Homo sapiens: one gene and its partners. The protein of the gene in region 5 purifies or fractionates together with the protein of the main gene of each other region. This does not show direct contact. Each region holds a gene or a part of one and is shown on either strand. Other genes may lie near its edges. The genes, in order: PARVG, TMEM214, TIMP3, SOAT1, ASGR2, SLC38A9 and SERINC1.

What was found.
Region 1: the proteins of ASGR2 (region 5) and PARVG purify together in Homo sapiens (affinity purification with mass spectrometry; 3 studies listed by BioGRID and IntAct, with this or other methods). This does not show direct contact.
Region 2: the proteins of ASGR2 (region 5) and TMEM214 purify together in Homo sapiens (affinity purification with mass spectrometry; 4 studies listed by BioGRID and IntAct, with this or other methods). This does not show direct contact.
Region 3: the proteins of ASGR2 (region 5) and TIMP3 purify together in Homo sapiens (affinity purification with mass spectrometry; 3 studies listed by BioGRID and IntAct, with this or other methods). This does not show direct contact.
Region 4: the proteins of ASGR2 (region 5) and SOAT1 purify together in Homo sapiens (affinity purification with mass spectrometry; 4 studies listed by BioGRID and IntAct, with this or other methods). This does not show direct contact.
Region 6: the proteins of ASGR2 (region 5) and SLC38A9 purify together in Homo sapiens (affinity purification with mass spectrometry; 3 studies listed by BioGRID and IntAct, with this or other methods). This does not show direct contact.
Region 7: the proteins of ASGR2 (region 5) and SERINC1 purify together in Homo sapiens (affinity purification with mass spectrometry; 4 studies listed by BioGRID and IntAct, with this or other methods). This does not show direct contact.

The regions. Positions count from the first base shown.
Region 1 is NC_000022.11:44,201,425-44,204,924, reverse strand, and holds part of PARVG (gamma-parvin), read right to left. Parts: intron 1-3,500. UniProt on the Homo sapiens protein: Plays a role with ILK in promoting the cell adhesion and spreading of leukocytes.
Region 2 is NC_000002.12:27,039,080-27,042,194, reverse strand, and holds the end of TMEM214 (transmembrane protein 214), read right to left. Parts: coding exon 3,031-3,115; intron 2,455-3,030; coding exon 2,358-2,454; intron 2,166-2,357; coding exon 1,997-2,165; intron 1,851-1,996; coding exon 1,699-1,850; intron 1,485-1,698; coding exon 1,358-1,484; 3' UTR 501-1,357; downstream 1-500. UniProt on the Homo sapiens protein: Critical mediator, in cooperation with CASP4, of endoplasmic reticulum-stress induced apoptosis. Required or the activation of CASP4 following endoplasmic reticulum stress.
Region 3 is NC_000022.11:32,860,705-32,863,541, reverse strand, and holds the end of TIMP3 (metalloproteinase inhibitor 3 precursor), read right to left. Parts: 3' UTR 501-2,837; downstream 1-500.
Region 4 is NC_000001.11:179,300,297-179,303,796, forward strand, and holds part of SOAT1 (sterol O-acyltransferase 1), read left to right. Parts: intron 1-2,380; 5' UTR 2,381-2,388; coding exon 2,389-2,506; intron 2,507-3,500.
Region 5 is NC_000017.11:7,108,323-7,111,822, forward strand, and holds part of ASGR2 (asialoglycoprotein receptor 2), read right to left. Parts: intron 567-3,500; coding exon 450-566; coding exon of another isoform or gene 414-449; intron 236-413; coding exon 140-235; intron 1-139. UniProt on the Homo sapiens protein: Mediates the endocytosis of plasma glycoproteins to which the terminal sialic acid residue on their complex carbohydrate moieties has been removed. The receptor recognizes terminal galactose and N-acetylgalactosamine units.
Region 6 is NC_000005.10:55,628,837-55,632,324, forward strand, and holds part of SLC38A9 (neutral amino acid transporter 9), read right to left. Parts: intron 1-3,488.
Region 7 is NC_000006.12:122,447,808-122,451,307, forward strand, and holds part of SERINC1 (serine incorporator 1), read right to left. Parts: intron 1-3,500.

The DNA of each region.
Region 1 (3,500 bases), on a different chromosome or scaffold from region 5:
TCCCTTTCCATTCTAGCTTCTCCCTTGGGCCTCGTCTACAAGCAGAGTAGGTCCCAGCCCTTTGCCTTAGGGCAGCAGCCTGGTGTGGGTGAAGAGGGATGAACTCCTGGTTCACTGTGACCTCAAACAGGTCCTCCCTTCAATGTCTTAGCCACCCGTAGATCCACTAGACGGGGTGGACATCCCAGCCCGGGGGTCAGCTGTGCTGGTCCCGTTCCCTCCCTATCTGCCTGGCCACACCAGCCCCACCAGGACAGGGCAGTTCCCATGGCAACCCGCCAGGGGCCAAGAGGCCAGGTTGGCCGAGCGGTGGATGAGCAAGGCCAGGCAAGACTCATCCAGAAACGCCAGCCTGGCCCAGGCCACCTCCAGCCACCTGCTGGATGGCCCGAGCAAGAGGACTCTTGGGATCTAGCTTGGATGTCTGTGTACTGCCACCCCCATCCCTGCCACTAAGTGTCTGACCTCGGACAAGTCACACATCCTGGCTGGGCCTCAGGTGCCTCATCTGTGTCACGGGGATGATACACCTGTCTGCCTTCCTCTCCAAGGCTGCCATGTGCGTCCAATGTGATGACGGACACAGAATTGAAGCCACAAAGCAAGATTTGAAGGTGAGGATGATGAAGGCATAGGAGCTGGAAGTGGGTGAGCAGAGTCCTTCTCCACGTGGGGACATGAAGATGGAGGGCGGGTCCCAGATGGAAAGGAGTGTATGGGCAGGGTGCCCAGCAGCAGCAGCAGGGCCGCTCCTCTGTAGTCAGCCAACAAGAAGAAACAGGCTAGGCACGGTGGCTCATTCCTGTAATCCCAGCACTTTGAGAGGCCAAAGTGGGCAGATCACCTGAGGTCAGGAGTTCGAGACCAGCCTGGCCAACATGGTGAAACCCTGTCTCTACTAAAAATACAAAAATTAGCTGGGTGTGGTGGCACGTGCCTGTAATCCCAGCTACTTGGGAGGCTGAGGCAGGAGAATTGCTTGAACCCAGGAGGCGGAGGTTGCAGTGAGCCAAGATTGCACCACTGCACTCCATCCTGGGTGACAAGAGCGAAACAAAGGCTATCACACGGCACCAATGTTGCAGCATGCTGCAGGGGCCAATGCGGGGTGAAACTCTGAGACTGTCCAGACCAAGATGGATGGGAAGCTCCGAGTGGACAGACCAGAGCATCACCGGAAGTTCCCATCACTGTGTCCCCAGTTCTTCCTCCTAGACTGGAATATTCTGGGAAACTAGGGTTGCAATTGTTGCTATTGTTCGCATTCTCATCACGAATATTATTTGCAGTTACATGGAGAGTAAATGTCGGAGTGAGAACAAGACCCTGAGGAACCTGAGGTTCCAGACTCCGCACTGTGCTCTCCTGCCTCAAAGCTCCGCCTTTGATACATTCAGCGAGCCAGCATCTCCCAAACTGTGATCTAAGATGGACAGGAAAGGGGATATCTGTGGCCAAACGTTTTTAGAAATTGTTGGATTAAATAAAATACTATGGAAGTCCTTCACTGCAGGACTTATTAGAGCCTTGAATGTGTTGGTGGGCCGCATGAACCTTCAAGACTAGACATGTTTCCCCAAGTTATTTATTCATAGAACCCATTTGTCACAGAACACCTCCTGGGACCAATGTTTTGGAAACACTTCGTTCATTCACTTATTTAAAAAAATACTTGTCATCTACTATGTGCTAGCCATACAACCAGTGCTCAAAACAGACCAGACCTCCTGCCCTCATAGAGCTTATGCTTTGGGAATTGCTATCGACACTGAAAATTATGACATCTGCTTCTGTTTGTCACACTCTTCCTCAATGACACTCAATCTGAACAAAAGATCATCCCCCAGTAAGAGCTGACCCTGGCTCCAGAGCTATCTCATGATGCTCTGTCCAGAGATTTTTCTTCCGCGTGTGGCTTGAGATGAAGATAAAACTACCACCTTCCACGGAGCTGAGAGAAGGTTACAACCCGGGAGGATACGTGCAAATCCTCCTGGGGAAAGTAATTTAACGTGGAAGGACGCCAAGGATTCCTGGCTCCGGGGATTTTATTTCTGGGAGCGAATGATCCTCTCTCCCTCCATCCTTAACTTCCGTGCCCACAATGAATAACTATCTCACATAAACACCATCAGCAAAGAGGGTCTGATAATGAGAAATCCAATTTCAAGAGGCTACTCTGCCAAGATAACAATTCCGCAGAGGCCCACCTTCAGCAAGGGCTGGTGTTCCCGCCCTCCTCAGCTGACGACCTCTTCAGCATTTTGATTACACATTCCTGCAGCAGAGATTGCCCACAATATGCTGTAAAAATTCATTCTTGGAGTCTGAGCTAAGAGGCTGCTGCTTTTCCCCCACATCTAATCTGACTCATATTCAGAAGTAAGTTCTAAAATCAGTGGATTCAGCAAAGCGGCTGCACACAGCAACATGGAAGTCTGCACGTTTGTTCCCGTCTTGTAACTGGGGCTTGGATGGTGCAACAGATTGAGCAGAGGCCCTGCAGCCCAGGGGCACCCCAGAGTGGCTCTGAGCTGGGTTCCGAGCCCCAGGCCCTCAGCCCGCAGGTGGTCCTGCCTGCCCCCTTCCTCCGCCTTCTCTCCTCACCGCTCACATTTCAGTGCCTTGCCTTCCCGAGGCAGGCTCTGACCCCAGTCTCAGCCTTGGCTTCAACCCCACTGAGCCCTGCCACCCCTCCATCTCCCAGAGACTCACATTGGCTCCACAGGAGGGAAACAGGGAGGACCCTAACTCACTGTGTGCTCTGGGCCAGACTTCTGTGCCTCTCTCAACTGTTTCCTCTGTGGAAGTGGGGATGGGAAGAGTTCCTAACTCCAAGACCCAACATGAGGATTTGCTAGCACATTCGTCCACACTGCCCGTGGGAGATCCCACCATCGGCCCAATTCTGCACCCACACACTTTGCAGGGCTGTCCCATGTCACTGTCAAGGCCACAGGGCCTGCTTCGATGGAAGTGGCAGCCTGCCCATTCTGAGCCAGGGCCTCATGCCTTCTGCCTGGTCTCTCATGTGTCTGCCATTGCCAGGAGGAAAGCGTGCCCGGGCCAGCTGCTGGTCCCAGAAGGAACATGGCAGGCTGTGGCACAGAGCCGAGCCACCCAGCCACGACAGCCTGATCCCTATCCAGTCCTCGGAGGAGTGACAAAGCCTAGCTGAGCCTCTAGCAGCTAAACTCAGCCGACCTGCCGGTCTGTGGGAAGAAATGAGCATGGTTTTCAGCCCCTAGGTTTTCGGGTGGTTTGTTAAGCAGCACGTTTGTGGCAATGGCTGGCTGATGCAGCTCCTCCGAATGGAAGAACCTAGGAAGCAGCAGGCACCGTGCCTGCCACAACCACCAGGACCGTAGACACTGACTGCCCCGGCCTCGTTGCTCTGACCCAACATCCCAGCTCTTGGGAACCAAGTCCAGAGCACCTGGCCTCCAGGGAAGGTGGAGGCCACACCCACTCAAGATGCATCCCCGTGGGGGCGAGGGACA
Region 2 (3,115 bases), on a different chromosome or scaffold from region 5:
CTCTAGTACTGCTGACTTGAAACATTTAAGGAAACAAAATTGAGAACTAAGAAACCAGCAGAGTTATCTAACTCCTTATAGTCTCAAGTCAAAAATAAAAAGGGGCTTCGGTGATAAACCTTGGACTCATGTGTCCCTTGGAGTTCTAAATCTTTCACTCACTGCTCTATAAAATGAAGGTCCTGGCAAGGAAAGGACACCTCCTGGTCACTGGCCAAGAATTCCCCTAGGAGACGGCCCCCTGCTTTTCTAAGCGTAAAACTATCAAGGCAAATCTGGGACGTGAATCACAGTGACAAGTCAGACACTATAATTAGGGTAGCAAGAGAAGTGTCTAGAACACCCACCAGGTCAAACTTTAGAACCATGTGTGTGGGCTTCCCCCACCAGGAGCTTAATTACAGCCACGGCTACAGTCTTCAGGAGGGCAAGGGCCCAGGATTTTGTTATTCTGAACCATAACTAGGGGAATTTCTATATGAGGATGCAGACAAGAATGCTAGAAATCAAATCTGTGTCCTTTATTCCACCTGGTAGGGCATACCCAAGAACCATATACTGAGTCCTGTCTCAGGTTGATGGAGGGTTCCCTGGGCCCAAGGCACACAACTGCCTGTGCTCTGCTCTACAGATGATAGGAGGGATGGACAGTGGAGAGAAGCTGAGCCTTGTGACCAAGACCCCCAGCATGATGGGGAATGGAAAGTTGGAAGAAGTAGGACTACAAGGGAGGGGACAGGGAGGGGCTTAGAGGCATTTGGGGCAGGCTGGGCATTTTGAAGTGAGAGGCATTTCCATCCAGCTCCCCATGTCCACTGACAGCCACACCCAGGCTTCAGGTGGAGGTGAGGCTGCTGTTTCCCAATGCGGTGCTATATTCTTCTGGAAGCCCCTTTCCTTCTGCTGTGGCTAGAGCTGTGACCAAGAATGGGAACAGGAGGCTGCTAAAGTCTGGAGAAGCAGGAATCATTTGTCAGAAGAACACAGAAGCCACCTGCTGGGAGTTCTATCTTTTTAGAGATGAGCTGTTTGGGGTTTAGAAATGAGATGGAAGGAAGTGGAAGGCAGAGGGCAAGGGCGGAGTTGTGAGAGGCTACCAGCACAAGGATGGAGGCTGGGGGCCATGTGCAGTAGGGCCAGAAAAGTGTTCAGTGGAATTGTGGGTAGGAGGCTGAGATGCTGCTGGGCCCTGTCCCCACCAAAGATGGAAGAACTGAGGTGGAGGCAACTGGCCACTTGCCTAGGAGAGAACTCAGGCACCAAGTTAAAAAGACTCCCATGAAGAACTGCCACCTTCTACCCGCTGCAGTCTTGGATGGTCTACCCATGCAGAAATCAGTGGCCAGGAAGGCAGGGCCTACTGCTGGGATATCAGGGCAAGTGCCCAGTCCAAGAAAGCCACTGTAATGTCCTGTAGGCAAAGCCAGGTCCAGTGGACAGCCTCACTGAGCTGTGTCTTCATGCAGTCCCAGGTCACCTCACCTCTGGAAGGAAAGTGGAACATTTTTGAGTATGCACGTGAGTAGCTGTGTCAACTTTCGGGGATGAAAGCTTAGACCCACAACCCTCATCCCAGGGTGGCCAGGAATGGGAGCGAGGGGCAGGACAGTGTGGGAGACTGGATAGAGATGGCTTGTCCCTGGGGCCCGGGAATGGGGCTGCTGGGGATCCTGCCGGAGCCCTGGGCAAAGGTCTCACCTGCATGCCTCATGGCAGTGCTCCTGGGCCCAGGCCAGGGCCTCAAGCAAGAGGTGCCACAGTGGCAGCAGCACATTCTGGTGGAAAAGCAGGGGCAGCTCTCTCAGATAGCGGAGTAGCTGATTCACGGAATCGGGGAGCTGGATCTGTAGCTGGACCATGGAGAATGGATGGGGTCAGAGTATCCAGGGAACTGCATCCTGGCCCTAAAGACTCAGGCCACACAGTGCTGCTCCTTTCCCAGAATTCTGCTCCTGGGAAAACCAGCCCCTTATTTGACTCCCTGTCTCTGACTTACCCTCTGAGAGAGACTGGTGAGACTGTCACCAAACCACGCAAGGTGAGAGGCACAGTGGGCAGAAAGGAAGCTGACTGTGGCATTGGTGTGAGCCCAGGCCAGCTGCAAGCTGGGCCGCACCACGGTGAGCAGGTGGGAGCCCCAGAGCGGCAGTGTCTCCCCCAGCCAGCTGTGGAAGATGGAAGTGGGGGAAGAGGGCTCTGAGTCTCCTCAGGCCCACTTAGCTCCCAAGAAACAGCTGGGGAAAGGGAGGCCGTGGGAAAGGAGAATCACAAGCGCTTCCCACTGACTGTCGCCTCCTCCCTGACACCCAGGCCTTCTCTCTTCTGCCTCTCCTCTCCCCTCCCTGGGAGGAGCTCACCTGTAGCCTTGCAGACTGTAGGAGTAGAGCTTGGCACACGCTTGTTGGCTAGCAGGTAAGAAGCCAGATGATCGAAGCAACCGGCCAGTAAGGGAGGCTAAGTAAAGGGGGCCTCTGGTGAGCTGGGAGGTGAGAGGGGCAGGGACTGGGGAGACAGACACTACAGGGCCCAGAGCAGGCACAGCGAGGCGCTGGGCAGAGCTTTGTGTTCTCACAGGGCCACAAAGCCAGCTCCAGGCTGCTGTGGAGGGAGGCATGCAGAGCTGCCCTTCTCCTGCTGGGCCAGGTGTGCAGGAATGCAGCTGCCGGTTGGAGCCTAGGCTCAGGCTTCAGGAAGCCTCAGGTTGAGGGTCTGCCCTTCTACTTACTAGCTATGACCTAAAGCTAATTGCTACATCTTTCTGAGACCATTTCCTCAGGAGTTAAAAGGAGGTAACACCTACTAAAATGATACTATGAATATGCAAGCACTTCTATACTGCGAAGTCCTAGTCCAATCTGAAATGGTAGTGTCATATCTGTGGACAAAAAAATCTGTCTGTAAAGTGTTTACTCTGCAGGATTGAGAACTCGTCAGGACAAAGATGTGTGCTGCTGGGGGCGGGGTGGTGGTGCTACGTGTAGCTCTGTGCCCCGCCCACACCATCCTCCTCGCTTGCCCATTGCTGCTTACCCTGGAAGGAGCTGTGTGACCGGAGGTCATGGCACAGGAAGCCTACAGCGAAGACCAGCAGCAACAGGAGGAGCCGCGTCCAGGG
Region 3 (2,837 bases), on a different chromosome or scaffold from region 5:
GTTGTTATAAGCTCTGGGAAAAGGTCACCAGCTGTCGTGAGACCTCATGAGTTCCTGGTGTTCCCAACTAGGCCAAGCCATACTTGGAATTTCAAGCAGGCAGTTGACATCAAGGACTGCTGTTTGCAGGCCGCCCCTCCCCACCTCCACCAGGTTGGGATTCTTAGGAAGAAAACAAGGAGGGCTGAGTAAGGACTCCAGTCTGGGGGTACTTGTACCACCAATAGGTGATTAGGTACAGATATATTAATACATCCAGATTCAGCAGAACTAGGGAGGACTCTAGCAATAGAATCAGGGAGCAAAGTCAAGGCAGGGCACCTCTCCTAAGATTCCTTCTGCAAGGGAAAAGGACTGGAGCAGGGTGGGGCCAGGCCATAGCGGTGCATGGAGGGAGGGATGTGTCCAGGCCTGGAGCTGGGGATAGACTTTCAAGGCCTGCTGGTGTATACATAACTCCCCGTGGCGTCAGAACACAACAAGGCAAGAGACAGCAGATGTGTGATAGAAATAAAACCACTTTACTGTTTAGAATAAAGGACACACTATAAAAAGTGAACATTATGCAACATTACAAGACAATATACATTCACGGAATATAAAATTCATAAATAACATGGAGGAAAACTGTAAACAGTGCTACGAAATTTAGCAACAAATACATTCCTTCTAGACAGGGTTCGAGATCTCTTGTTGGTTTCTCTCCATCACTTCTGGGTTTCAGGACAGCAGACTGGCTAAAGGGAAAGGCGGATGCTGGGAGAATCTAAGAAGCCTCTACCCCCAAAGCAAAAACTATTCTCCAAGTTCTCCCCTTCCTCTCGCCTCCAAAGAGCCAATTTGGAAGTTGTTGTCACATCCACCTCCCCTACTTTCCATTTTGTTTTGCTTTTGCCATCAGATTTTTATAATGTTTGTCTCTCATAAAAATACTCTAGTGACATGTTAACCTTAGGTAGCCAGAAGCCAAACACTTGGGTGCCATCTTGGGGTAGTCCAGATTGTCAATTGTCACATGCAAGACAGAGGTCTGGGGCATGGAAGGGTAGTGTCTCCTGGGGGCCACAGTTTGCCCTAGACAGGGCTATTCCAAAAAGTCATTTGTTTCTTTAATTGTTCAAGAACCATGTTGCCACCATGAGGCAGGTCTGGAACGAGGGGAGGGTAAAAGACAGGAGTCTCCCAGTATTACCTACCCTGGACAGAGCAGAGCACTGGCCCGAGAGCTGAGAGCCTGAGCATGGAGCTTCCTTGATTGGGAGGCAGAAGAGATGCCCAAAGGAGGAAGCGAGAACTTGGAATTGTATCTCCCATGGCCCTGGATTCTTAGGAAAATCATGGCTTCCCAACTGGATGGGCAGCAGGACTTGGGGTGAAGTAAATGGTAGACTACCCAGGGCCGAGTGACACAGAACAAGAACATGAATGTAGTTTAAACTTTTTTCCTACTCCAGGAGCCATTGGGATTCCAATAGGGAGGAGGCTGGAGGAGTCTCAGTTACTAGTTCCTTCTATTTCCCCCAATTCACCAGTCTAGCTGCTTGCCTAGAAGTATTTTCCTCTCCATTCCACTGCAGAATTTGATTCAGGAAAATGGCGGCATGTGGGTTTCATTTTTCTCTTAAACACAATGTACACATATTACAGCCTACACATGACACAAGATTTAGCAAAATAAAATGTTCATGATATGATTGAAATACAGAAGTGTCTCAGCTACATAAATGATTTTAAATTATACAGTAAGTGAACGGGTGAAATAAACAAAGCTATAGCTTATAGAAAGCTCAAAACCGCCCTCTGACATCGCTTTGCGAAAGACCCTTCTTTGCCCAGGGCCTCCTCACCAAGGCCTAACAGATGGGGATGTGGTTCTGCTAATTTATCGACTCCGCAGGGAAACTTCAGGTGCCTCACACTCAGCCTTCACCCAAGTTCCTCCTTGTGTGAGAGAGGCTGACCACACCAGGGAGTGCGAATGGCCAGATGCCTCACAGAGAAGACACTGATGTCCACTTGTGGGAGGGAACTTGTGTAGGTTGGTCAGGGGCCCCACCATGCGAGACCTTGAGGTTAAAATAAGGACAATCCCAAAACATCAAGTCTGGGCTCATCCCTTCAAAACCAGTGACATGCTGGCATCAGCTTCTGCTCACACTGCCTCACAAAGAAGGCCAAGCCTCCCATTCTCCCCCTGCCAAATGGCATGACCACAATGGGAAAGGTACACGGTAATGAAATTGATCCCAAGGAAACCCGATGCCGGTACTCTCTTCCCACTCTGCGGTTCTGCCAAGCACCTTGCCTGGGCACTTGTGTGTGTGCAAGACTCTACAGTGTGTTGTCTGCTGCTTTTTTTTTTTTTCTTCTTCTGTTTCAATTGGCAGCTCTGTTTCCTAAAGTGGAATGAACTGAAGATACAAATACTAATAGAAGATAAATACCCATAAGCTGAAAAAAGAGACAGAGAGCAATCATGTTCAATGTCACCATCCTGCCAACCCCCACTCTGTAAAATATACATTATCACCTACTCTCAGCATCTCACTTTTGACACTAAAACTTAAAATAATTTTATTTAATAGGAGAATTTATATTATAGTTTTATTTCAAAAAAAAAAAAAAAAACACAACAGAAACCCTACAACTGGTTGCAAACTCAGGCTTTCCCCAGTGACCAACAATTTTAATTCCAAGAGGTGAGGATCTCAGGAGGTGGCATTCACCCACCAGGGAGCTAGGGAAAGGGAACCAAGCTGTCTCCACACCCAGGAGAGGTGTCCCTCCAGCCAAGGCAGGCAGGACACTCTGCAGCTCTCCCTCCTGTGCCCAGGCCC
Region 4 (3,500 bases), on a different chromosome or scaffold from region 5:
GTTTTCAGTTCTTACTTCTCTCATCATTTCTGATGAAGAGATAGATGCTCTTGTGGCTTCCTCTGTCACTTTTACACAGAATTGGACCATTGTAAGTTGGGCATCGTCTTGTGATTTATTAGCCCTGACTTTTCCCTTAAGTTCCTCTTAATTAGATCTTATGATATCATAACATTTCTACTTGATATATTCATCTGCTGTTCCACAATTGTTTCATTTGTTTGATTTCAGAAATAATTAGAAGAAAGCCGATCTAGATTTGTCAGATTTTTACTTTGCCAAGCTGTGATAGTTGAAAAACAACCAAACCCACCATGTACTATATTTCATCCTTTTATACAGAAAAGGATATTTTAGTACAAAAATTAAGAAAAACTGTAGTCTCAGAATTTAAATATATATAGCTTTAAAATAATGTAATGAGTATTTCACAGTTGTTTTCTTCTTGCTTTAGACTCTTGAAAACTTTATCACATAGTGAAACACTGCTTTACTTTTTATTTAAAATTGTTTTTTTGGCCGGGTGCGGTGGCTCATGCCTGTAATCCCAGCACTTTGGGAGGCTGAGGCGGGCGGATAACTTGAGGTCAGAAGTTCGAGACCAGCGTGACCAACATGGTGAAACCCTGTCTCTACTAAAATACAAAAATTAGCCACGTGTGGTGGCAGTCACCTGTAATCTCAGCCACTCGGGAGGCTGAGGCAGGAGAATTGCCTGAACCCAGGAGGCGGAGGTTGCAGTGAGCCGAGATTGCACCATTGCACTCCCACCTGGGCAAAGCGATACTCCTTCTCAATAAATAAATAAATAAATAATTTTGAGATGTGGTCTTGCTATGTTTCCCATGCCAGACTCAAACTCCTGGGTTCAAGTCATCCTCCCGCCTGAGCCTCCCAAGTAGCTGGGACTACAGCTGTGTGCCACCATGCCCAACTAGGGAAACACATGGCTTTAGAGTAAACCTTGTACTATCTTGATATTGATCTTTGATCATGTTTTTTAGTGCTTAAAGTGTCTCACCACTGCCTTCCTGAAAAACTTCTAATTTCTTAGGCCTTTATAGTTTGACTCCTGTCCTCCTTTCTAGTCTTTTCCCTCATCACATTTCTCCATTACCAACTATTTTCCCCCAGTAGTTAGTGGTCTTTGTAGTTTGGATCCAACTAATGCCAGTTCCAATCGGGCTCTGTCGTTAGCTGTGTGGTCTTGGGCAAGTTACTGTAATGAGAAGAAAAGCAGACTCTAGTACCTGGGGCTGTGGTGTGCATTCCTATAAATTCAGCTTGTTCAACTGCAGGTGTATTCCTGGTACATGGGTGGAGGACACTGATAGTAACTACTTTAAATCATTGTTTTCTCATGTGAAAACTGAGGGTAATTTTTTTCAGAATTGTTATGAAGATTAAATGAGAAAACTTAAAGCATCTGGCAGGGTCCTTGCACTTAGTAGATACTTAACAAAAACTTGTTTTTGTCGTAGTTCAATTCCTTCATGGTTCCCTGAACGGGGCTTATAAGGTCCTTGTTTTAATCCTTTCTTGCACATGGAATGCACAGTTCTCATCCTTCAAGACTGTGTCTAAAATACCTTCTTTTCTGTGAAACCTTTACATCTTCTGCTAATCTCTGCTGTCTCTGAACTTAAGGTATTGTTTTTACCATTGACTTTGTTATTAAATCATACTCCACCCTGTGGCATCTTTGTAGTTACCTGTTACTATTTAATCCTTTTTTTTTTTTTTTTACATACTTAATGCTTTGTTCAACTAAATTGTTCTTTAAGAGTGGGGTCTATGTTTAAAAAGGGGCTTCAAAACCATTCCAATTATTTTATAGGACCTGATTTCTTCAGATTTGTTATCTTGAGTATCTTGTACCCAGAAAATGCTTTGAAATGATTAATGCAAAAGGAAGAGAATGTATCATCACATTTCACCTCTCCTAAATATAGTGGTATTGTGAAATTCACGTAAGCCAGATGCTTAGTTCAAAGCTGATATATTGGTTTGCTTCTGTGTCCCCACACAAATCTCATCTCTAACTGTAATCACCACGTGTCTAGGGAGGGAACTGGTGGGAGGTGATTGGATCATGGGGGCAGTTTCCCCCATGCTGTTCTCGTGATAGTGAGGGAGTTCTCATGAGAGCTGATGGTTTTAAATGTGGCACTTCCTTGCTCTGTCTCTCCTGCCGCCACGTAAGACATGCCTTGCCTCCCCTTGGTCTTCTGCCATGATTGTAAGTTTCCTGAGGCCTTTCCAGCCATGCGGAACTGTGAGACAGTTAAACCTCTTTCCTTTATAAATTACCCAGTCTCAGGTAGTGTATAGCAGTGTGAAAACGGACTAATACGAAAGCTTTTTACACCTTCTTTCCTAGACAATACAATGGTGGGTGAAGAGAAGATGTCTCTAAGAAACCGGCTGTCAAAGTCCAGGGAAAATCCTGAGGAAGATGAAGACCAGAGAAACCCTGCAAAGGAGTCCCTAGAGACACCTAGTAATGGTGAGGCTTAATTTTTTTTTTTTAGGTGAATTAGTGAAATAGAGAACAAATACAGTGTTATAGAATAAGTATTGCCATCTCTTTAATTCTTTATTGTAAATGGGTATTGATAGAGTTTTATATGTCTAGTAACAAAGCAATTAGACAATAAGTCCTTTCTCGTTAATTAATTTGGTGGTCATCTATTGGTATCTGCTGTGTTTTAGAGACCATTCATTCAGTCACGTAACCTACCAATAATTGCTGAGGTCCCCCGCTGGATGCTGGGGCTATAGCAGTGATCAGTACGGATTTGTTTGCCATTATGGAGCTCCAAGTTAAGTGAATGACAAAACCTCCAAAATCATACACATAACTAGATTTATCACAGTGTAATATTCTTGTAATTAACTACTTTCATAATAGATGTAATGAGTAAAATGTGAGTAATTAGCAGGGTGCCTAACCCAGTTCAATACTGAGCTATAAATCTTGGGAGAGGAGTAGTTAGGGAGTTTTATTAGTTCTTGTATCCACGTTTGCTTAATGCCTGACTACAAAGAGGAATACGATAGTCCTTTGTTGTTAAGGTCAAGGTTTATGATTATGAATGATAGACTTGTAAACACAACTCTAATTGATGTCATCTATTGCATCAGGGTATTAATTTTTGCAGTGACATTTGTAAAGGTTTGATTTCAACAAGGATTTGAAAATTGAGGATTGTTTAGTTAACAAATAGGTGCGGAACCTTCTGAGACAGGTTGTCTTTGGCATTTCATCTCTTTTCATAAAGAAACAGTTTTGTTTTTCCTACCTAAATTTAATTAAACTTAAATATCAACAGCTGGATCCCACCAGGAATGTAAACATTGCTGCTTGAGTTGGCATAATGAGGTTTATTGATAGGCTCTTAGTTAGCTATATATGACATATTTATATGGCATATGGGCTAGTTTTAGTGTGATATAAAATGTGAAATTTATGCAAAGGAGGATGAGCCAATACTGGGGAG
Region 5 (3,500 bases):
CCTATACATCCCCCAGGGCCCCTGGACGCCTTGCCCAGCCTGCACCCCCACGGCACCCCACACAGCCCTGTTGCAGACTCGGCACTGAGCCCAGCAAACCTGTGCGGATAAATGAGAACCCAGCCGTCCAGCCCCTCACCGTGGGTGCTGATTGCCTGGACCTCCGTCAGGGTGCTCGAGGAGAAGTTGCTGAAAGCTTCCTTCAGGCTCCGCAGCTCGGCTTGCAGCTGTGCACCTTGTCAGGTGGTAGTGGGGGCAGGATGAGGCAGAGGGGCCGTGTCCCCATCACTGTCCATGTGACTGGCCCCTCAATGTCCCCGCATTTGCCCCAGCTTGTGCTCCACCCCGCCTCCATCCCTTCCCCTCCCATCGCCCCGATCGCTGCCCGCCACTGCCCATGTCTCTTTCCCTACCCCTTGCCCATCCCTGCTGGCCCCCGTGACCCTCACTTTGGGACCCAGTCACACAGATGACCACCAGCAGCAGGATGTTGAAGCTCAGGGCAAGCAGACTGAAGCAGACCATGGAGCAGAGACGCTGTGCCAGGGGCTGGGCAGGAGGTGGCCCTGTGGGAGAGGGGCATCAGGAGCCGGCAGCCTGGGTGTGGGGAGCCGGAGGGTAAAGACAGGGCACCGAAGCCTGAGGAGGCATAACCTGGGCGGGGGGATTGGTTGGGGCCATGGGGGGGGGTCATCATAGGCTTTGACCCCAGCATTTGAGCATTACACACACACTCTTACACACTCGCACCCATATTACCATGTATAAATATACACACGCAGCTAATCTGGTGCACACACACCCATGCACACGACTCAGGATATTCACATCAGCTGTGTGCAAAGCCCGGATCCTGGAGCTGGGGGACTGGGAGACGCACAGGGGGCGGGGGGGCAGACCCGGCCCTGCCTAGGCACACATCCTGAGAAGGGGGATCTGTGAATGGTTTTCCTCCCATCCAGCCAGTGGCAGAGGCCTCCAGATCACCTCGGGCCTTAGTCTCAGCTCTTCTAAGGCTCCTGTCCCCTCAGATTGGAGACTCCAGAAGCTGGGCCCTGTGTTCTTCCTAAAATCCATACTGGAACAGTCCCTCCCCTGCCAAAATTCCATTGAGATCCTTAAATCTGGGTCATTCCACCATAGCCCACTCTCCAAGCACAACCCTCCAGGTCCCACCTGTTGTCCTCATCCCCCACCACGCAAGGCCTCCTCCCCAGCGCCCTTTGCCCTCGCTTCCCTAGAAACCTCGTTCCACACTAAATTTGCTCCCCTCAGCCCGAGGTCATCTCACAGGTACCTCTCCTGCCCCTTGATCCATCTGCACCCTGACAGCACTGACACACACATTCACATGCCCTCACAAACTCACACACACTCACACACTCACACATTGCTCACTTCACTCAAAAACACACATTTGCACACACTCATGACCACGCTCTGCTGTACCCACTCTCACATGTGCATATGCATGCTAATGCACACATTCATACTCCCTCCCACACACACACACCTGACACACCCACACACGTACACTCACACACCCACGTCTTCCTGCACACAGAGCTGGGCTCCCTCTCTGCTGCCTCCAGACCCAGAGCAGCTCCAGTTGTCCCAGCCCTGAGCTCCTCTCTTTGCAGCATCCACCTGCAAACAGAACACCTTCTAGGCCTTGGACCCTGACTCTGTGGACTTCCTTGTCTTCTCATTCCTATCACCCCCCGACCCAGCAGGACCACATCCTGGGGAGGCTCAGTCAGGGGCCCAGAATCTTCCTCCCCAGGTCACTTCCTGCCACTGTCCTGAGTCAGACACTGCCCCTGTAAGTGACTGTCCATAACTCTTCATCTTTTTCACACCAGTGACTTCCACCTTCCCCACTGCAGCCACACTCAGGACCCCATTTGACCCAGGGAGGCCTCTGACACCTCCACTGCCCACTCCCGCTCTGAGCACAGCCCCACCCTCCCTCTCACTGCCCCCACCCCTTCCTCCAAGGCCTTTGCATTCCTCTCCATCCAGAAGCGCTCCATGACCACGGTGTTCCCCACCAAGCTGGCCCTCCATGGCTGAGTCCCTGACTGCTGTCTTCAGCACCCTCCACTCAGAGGGTCCTGTCCTGCTTCCCAGTCCGACTTATCAACTCCCAATGCTGGGTCAGCCCAGCAACGTGTCTGTATATCCACCCTGAAACCAGACTGCCCACAGGGTAGCCCAGCTGTGCCTCCAGGTAGCTCTGAGATCATGCACCAGCATTCAATTTCTCCATGCTTCCATTTTCTCGTGTGTAAAATGGAGATCACAGTCGTAGCTACCCGATTGGATTGCTCGGATAATTAGATGAGTTAAAATATGTAATGTGCTTCTTAGGCAAAAGTTTGAACATAAAAGACAGGGTCTGCCCAAGATGGGAAGAGTTCTTCTCTCCCCAGAAACAATCAAAACAAAAACAGACAACTATAGAACATGGCAGCTTTCAAGACTCTGGACATCAGGCAAGGAGGAGTAAAGATCCCTGAGGGATAAGAAGCAAACAACAGGAACCCTCCGATCACCCCAGCTTACTGTTTGGAGAGAGTCTGCAGGTTACAGGCCAGGAAAGGGAAGTCCAGGCAGAGCCCAAGAGACTCCCCACGTTGAGGAGATGGAGCTGAGAGTCCGAGGAGACCAAAACAATTAAGAGTTCAAACGATCAAACTGACTCTAAGTTGCTTAACTGCATCCCGGAGCAAAGCTCAAGAACATTTAGAGGAATACAAAAATATCCAGCACCCAACAAGGTGAAATTGACAATGTCTGGCAGCCAATCAAAGATTACAAGGCATGCAATGAAACGGGAAAACACAATGCATAACGAGGAGGTTCATAAATATCAAAAGAGATCCAGAACTGACACGGATGCTAGAATTAGCAGGCAAGGATGGTAAAACAGATATTATAGCCATATCCCATTATGTTCAAAAAATTAAGTAGAATTGTGGAGGATATTTAAGAGTCCCCAGGTGAACTTCTAGAGATAAAAACTACAATGTCTGAAATGAAAAAACACACTGGCCAGGCGCCGTGGCTCACGCCTGGAATCCCAGCACTGTGGGAGGCCAAGGCGGGCAGATCATGAGGTCAGGAGATCGACACCATCCTGGCTAACATGGTGAAACCCCATCTCTACTAAAAATACAAAAAATTAGCCAGACGTGGTGGCAGGCGCCTGTAGTCCCAGCTACTCGGGAGGCTGAGGCAGGAGAATGGCATGAACCCGGGAGGCAGAGCTTGCAGTGAGCCAAGATCGCGCCACTGCACTCCGGCCTGGGCAACAGAGCGAGACTCCGCCTCCAAAAAAAAAAAAAAGAAAAGAAAGAAAAGAAAAAACACACTGGATGGAAATAATGGAAGATGAGAAATGCGTAAGAAAAATTTAGGGCCAGGCACTGTGGATCACATCTGTAATCCCAGCACTTTGGGAGGTCGACACGGGGGGAATCACTTGAGCCCAGGAGCTC
Region 6 (3,488 bases), on a different chromosome or scaffold from region 5:
GAAAATTTGATGCTGAAGAAAGAACTCCATTTCCCCTGAAAATGATTCTCAAAAGCCAAATGTACACATCAAAGCAACCCTTTGGGCCCAAGTCATCAGAGGTTAATTAATCCCAGATAAAGATTACAGAGAATTAGAAACAAAGAAAATTATTTATATAAATAAGTGGTTAGTCATATACCCTGATGAATTAGAAAGATATTAGGGCTTACAGATCTTACTGTTTACCCAGAAACTCTAACCTTAAAATTGCTTCAGAGCTTTGAGGTATTGGCTGGGCTTTTGTTATTTCTGCATTATAAACGGAAACAACTTTGTATACACAGAGGGAGGCAGTTGCATCCATCTGTATTCCTTTTCTAAAATTTTAATTAATTATTATTATTTTTTTAAGAGACAGGGTCTTGCTCTGTCATCCAGGCTGCAGTGCAGTGGGGCAATAATGGCTTACTGAAGGCTTGAACTTCTGGGCTCAAACCAACCTCCTGAATAGCTGGGACTACAGGTGTGTGTCACCATGACCGGCTAACACCCATGCTTTCTATACTCTATTCTTTAATGCCAAACACTCTCCAAAGTATAAAAAAAGTCCTTGATAAAGGAGTAGAACATTAATTTTGCTAAATCTCATGTTTGAATATATATCCTTTAAATATTCTATGTGATCAAATAGGAAAGTCATAATAAAGCACATCTGCGCGTACTGCAGTACAGTACGCTGGAAGTCTTGAGGAAAAGTACCTGTGTGGCTGAGCTGAAGGGGACCTAGCTGTTTTGCCTACCAAATGCTACTTTTACTTGAATTGCAGTCAAACTATGGTCATTCAAACTCAGGTGTTTGACAGAGATTTTCCAGAAAAATGAATTATATAAGCTTGTCACTTATATAATTCAAGGAAAACAACTGGCAGTATTTGTTGCCAAAGATAAAATTAAAGTTTTCAAATAAAAACTAGAATTTTGGAAAACTTGTATTTGCTACCCTGAGCTTGACAGTTTCCCAATGTTTAAAGGCTCTTGTGATGAAATTAGTGATAGTATTAATGAAAGTGGGTTTTGATATTGTAAAATGAAGTGTGTCAACATTTGGAAGATCCACAGAACTCAGTGAACCAATATTTTCCAAATGATCAAACAGATGTTACAAAATCATGCATGCGTAAAAGATCCAAAGTGCACGATAGACCAATTGGTTTTAATGTAAACAAGTTTCAGATTCCACGATGCAACTCATAAGAAGCTACCACTCGTCAGGTTTTGGCACAGTATCAAAGAAGAATATCCACAATTATATGAAAAAGCTATTAAAAGTACTCCTTCTTTTTCCAACTATCTATGTGAGGCTGGATTTTCTTCACAAATCTAAACGAAAACAGGATATTATAACATGGAATGCAGAAGTAGAGAGGAGAATCAATTGTCTGCTAGTAAAACAAACATCAGAGTTTTGCAAATGTAAATTAAAGGGTTTTTTTGTTTGTTTGTTTTTGTTTTTTTTTGAGATGGAGTCTCGCTCTGTCACCCAGGCTGGAGTGCAGTGGTGCCATCTTGGCTCACTGCAACCTCCGCCTCCTGGGTTCAAGCAATTCTCCTACCTCAGCCTCCCGAGTACCTGGGATTACAAGCGCCTGCCACTACGCCAGGCTAATTTCTGTATTTTTAGTAGAGATGGGGTTTCACCATGGTGGCCAGGATGGTCTCGATCTCCTGACCTCATGATCCACCCGCCTTGGCCTCCCAAAGTGCTGGGATTACAGGTGTGAGCCACCACGAACGGCTAAATTAAAAATTTTTTGAAAGCAGTTATTTTTATTTTTTTAAATTTTGGTGGGTACATAGTAGGTGTATATATTTATGGGGCACATAAGATGTTTTCATACAGGCATGTAATACATAATAATCACATCATGGAGACTGGGGTATCCATCCCCTGAAAGTGTTTTTTTACAAAAATGTTACTTATGTTAACAAGTAATGGTTTTATTATTGATTTTAAACAAATTAAAAATACTTTGCTGGGCACGGTGGCTCATGCCTGTAATACCAGCACTTTGGGAGGCTGAGGCAGGCAGATCACCTGAGGTCAGGAGTTCAAGACCAGCCTGCCCAACATGGCGAAACACCATCTTTACTAAAAACACAAAAAATTAGGCAGACATGGTGGTGGGTGCCTGTAATCCCAGCTACTCGGGAGGCTGAGGTAGGAGAATTGCTTGAACCCAGGAGGCAGGGGTTGCAGTGAGCCAAGATCATGCCACTGCACTCCAGCCTGGGCGACAAGAGTGAAACTCCGTCTCAAAAAAACGAAAAACAAAAAACCTAAATTCTATTTTTTAATATTTAAATACTGATAGCTATACCTGCATAAACTAAAGCTCCTGGAGTCCTCAATACATTTTTAAGAGCATAAAGGGTCCTGAGACCAAAAATTATGCTCCAAAGTATGCACACTCTATAAAGTGCTTATAACTGTCGGATAAATGAAAATGACAATGTGTTCTTGGTGGTAGGGGAAGAACTGTAATGTGAAAACAAAAGGGAAATCTCTGACTTTTTCCAAGAAGAAAAAACATTATTGTAAAGATAGCCACATTCTGCAAAATAATGGTAGAAAACAGGAATAATGTATTTGCTTAGCATTTTTTCATCTATGACTTCACTGTATTTATTTTCTTTGATGAATATAAATACAGCAGAGTAGAAACACAATCAGAGGCTTACATTTATTGAGCTCCAATCTTCTGGATAATAACACTAGAACCATAGCTGCTGCTATACTTATCAGTGCTTGAGACCTGGTAACTCCTGACTTTTGCTTTGTTTTGAAACCAACATATTTATGGCAAAAATTATTTATCGAAGAAGCAGACTACATCAGTTCATTTTAAACAAGAACTGATTAAGACCACTTGTTTAGTTGCTTACTGTAAATGCAATTTTTTTCAAATTTTATTTAAGTTATCTTTCTTTAAAAGAACATATGCCTAATAAAAGTGGACTAGGTTCTTTTCACTAAGATGAACCTATAAAAAGACTTAATGTAAGGGTAGGAGTTAACCAAAGGTCCACAAGAAGGCTGCTGGGAAACTCTGAAATGACATATAGAAATTTCTCTTGAAAAAAAAAAAGAAATTTCTCTTGGATGAGGGTAACCAGCTTTGAAAAGATTTTCAAAAGAACTCACAACTCCTTCATCCCTAATAAGAGGTTAACAATTATAGCAGTAATTTAAACTTGTTATATATCAAATAAAAATTAATTATATATCTGACCTTCAATTCTAAACAATTGATCATTTATGTAAAATTGCATAAATGTAGGCCGGGTGCAGTGGCTCACGCCGGTAATCCCAGCACTTTGGAAGGCTGAGGCGGGCGGATTACAAGGTCAGGAGATTGAGACCATCCTGGCTAACACAGTGAAACCCCACCACTACTAAAAAATACAAAAAATTAGCCGGGCATGGTGGTGGGCGCCTGTAGTCCCAG
Region 7 (3,500 bases), on a different chromosome or scaffold from region 5:
CTTATTCTTTTATAAAGAAGAAAGTAGGCAAGGTGCGGTGGCTCATGCCTGTAATCCCAGCACTTTGGGAGGCCGAGGCGGGCGGATCACAAGGTCAAGAGATAGAGATCATCCTGGCCAACATGGTGAAACCGCTTCTCTACTAAAAATACAAAAATCAGCTGGGCGTGGTGGCATGTGCCTGTAGTCCCAGCTACTCGGGAGGCTGAGGCAGAAAGACTCGAACCCGGGAGGCGGTTGCAGTGAGCCGAGATCATGCCACTGCATTCCAGCCTAACGACAGAGCGAGACTCTGTCTCAAAAAAAAAAAAAAAAAGTAGGATTGCTAAAATATTCACTAAAGTGTCTAAAATACATATTTTTCTCCTGCAAAGCCAGATCTGTCAAACTCCATCTTACTAATGAAAATGATTCTTACCTTAAAGCCAATTAGGTAAGGCTATTTCCTTCTCTAAAGCAAACTACTAATAATTTTTTTCTAACCACCTACCTGGAAAAAAACAGGAAATCTTTGTGTAATACATCAAAACAAAAAAACAAAAAATAAATTGGTCTCCAAGTTATAAAGTACCTATGATAAAATACCTACAGTTTGTAAACTCAATGAGATTCATATAACATCAGATAAATTTTTTAGGAAAAGAGATCATTTTCTTCTTTTTAATAGGTAATAATTTTTGTCTATTCTAATTTGTCTCCTTTCAACATATGTTTCTATTCTCATGGTATGCAATATAACTAGCCTATAATAAGATGCATTACAAAGCCCAATTATCAAATTCAATTGTAAGGTAGTCACAGGCTAAAAGAGTAATTTAATAATGTGAAAAAATTATACTGTTCACAATTGAATCAACAGGAATTTGAAGAGTTTTTCTTTCTATATACGACAATTATATGCTCTATGCAAATCAGATACCTTTCTTATAATTTCACCCAGTTTCTTACATAGACATACCTTGTTTTACTGTGCTTTGCCTATTTTTTTTTTTTTTTTTTTTTAGCATTTTACAGATACTGTTCTTTTTACAAATTGAAGGTTTGTGGCAACCCTGCATTAAACAAGTCTATTGGTTCCATTTTTTCTAACAGTATGTACTCACTTTGTTTCACATTTTGGTAATTCTTGTAATATTTCACAATTTGTCATTATTATTAATTACATCTGTTATGGTGATCTCTCATCAGTGACCTATTATGTTACTATTGTAATTTCTTTCGGGCACCACAAATCACACCCATATAAGATGGTGAAATAATCGACAAACATTGTGTGTGTTCTGACTGCTCCACCAACCAGCCATTTCCTTGTCTCTATCCCTCTCCTTGGGCCTATTTCAAGACACAACCATATGGAAATTAGGCCAGTTAATAACCCTGCAATGGCCTCTAACTGTTCAAGTAAAAGAGTCCCCTTTCTCACTTAAATCAAAAGCTAGAAATGATTAAGCTTAGTTAAGAAAGCATGCCAAAAGCTGAGACAGGTCAAAAGCTAGGCCTTCTGTTCCAGTTAGCTGAGTTGCGAATGCAAAGAAAAGAAAAAGTTCTTGAAGGATATTAAAAGTGCCACTCCAGTGAACACAAACACACAAATGATAGATAAGAAAGCAAAGCAGTCTTATTGCTGATATGGAGGAGAAAGTTTTAGTGACCTGGATAGAAGATCAAACCAGCAGAGCATTCCCTTAAGCCAAAGCCTAATCCAGAGCAAGGCCCTCTCTCTCACTTCAAGTCTATTAAGATTGAGAGAGAGAAGGAAGCTGTAGAAGAAAAGTTTGAAACTAGATGGGGTTGGTTGTTGAGGTTTAATGAAAGAAACTGTCTCCGTAACATAAAAGTATAAGGTGAACCAGTAAGTGCTGATGCAGAAGCTACAGCAAGTCATCCTAAAAATCTAGCCAACAAAATTAATGAAAGTAGCTACACTGGTCAGGCATGGTTGCTCACGCCTGTAAGTTCAGCACTTTGGGAGGCTGAGGCGGGTGGATCACCTGAGGTCAGGAGTTCGAGAACAGCCTGGCTAACATGGTGAAACCCAATCTCTACTAAAAATACAAAATTAGCTGGGTGTGGTGGCGCAGGCCTGTAATCCCAGCTATTCAGGAGGCTGAGGCAGGAGAATGGCTTACCAAGGAGACAGAAGTTGCAGTGAACGGGGATTGTGCCATTGCACTCCAGCCTGTGCAACAAGAGTGAAACTCCATCTCAAAAAAATAAAAATAAGAAAAAAGAAAGCAGCCAAACCAAACAACAGATTTTCAATAAAGACAACATAGACTTCTATTGTAAGAAGATATAATCTAGGACTTTCATAGCTATAGAGAAGTCAGTCAATGCCTGGCTTCAAAGCTTAAAAGGACAGGCTGATTCTCTTGTTAGGGACTAATGCAGACAATGATTTTAAGAGAAAGCCAATGTTCTTTACCATTCCAAAAATCCTAGGGCCCTTAAGAATTATATTAAGTCTATTCAGCCTCTCTATGAATAGAAAAAAGCCTAGATGACAGCACATCTGTTGAAAGTATGGGTTACGGAATATTTTAAGCCCATTGTTGGGACTTACTGCTAAAAGATCCTTTCAAAATATTACTACTCAATGACGATGCACCTGGGTCACCCAAAAGCTCTGATAGAGATGTACAGGGAGATTAATATTTTCATGTCTGCTAACACAGTATTTATTCTGCAGCCCATGGAAAAAGGAGTAATTTCAACGTTTAAATCTTATTATTTAAGAAATATATTTTGTAAGGCTATAGCTGCCATAGAGTAATTCCTCTGATAGATCTGGGTGGACAAAGTAAACTGAAAACCTTCTGGAAAAGATTCACCATTCTAGATGCTATTAAGAACATTCATGATTCATGGGAAAAAATGTCAAAATATCAACATTAACAGGAGTTTGAAAGAAGTTGATTCTAACCCTCATAGATGACTGAGGATTTCAAGACTTTAGTGGAGGAAGTAGCTACAGATACGGTGGAAAGAGCAAGAGAACTAAAAAGTGGAACCTGAAGATGTGACTGAATTGCTGCAATTTCATTATCAAGCCTGAATGATGAGGTGTTGCTTCTTATGGATGAACAAAGTAGTTTTTTGAGATGGAATTTACTCCTGATGAAGATGCTATGAATATTATTGAAATGACAGCAAAGGAGTTAGAATATTACATAAACTTACTTAATGAACCAGGAGCAGGTTTAAGAGGATTGACTCCAATTTGGAAGGAAATTCTACTCTGGGTCAAATGCTATCAAACAGCATCATATGCTACAGAGAAATATTTTGTGAAAGGAGGAGTCAATCAATGGGCAAACTTCATTGTGGTCTTAGTTTAAAGATACTAAAACAGCCATGCCAACCTGCAGCAACCAACACCCTGTTCGGTCAGCAGCCGTCAACATTGAGGCAAGACCTCCTACCAGCAAAAAGATTACAACTTGATGAAGGCTCAGATGACTGTTAGCATTTTTTGGAAATAAAGTACTTTCAAATTAAGG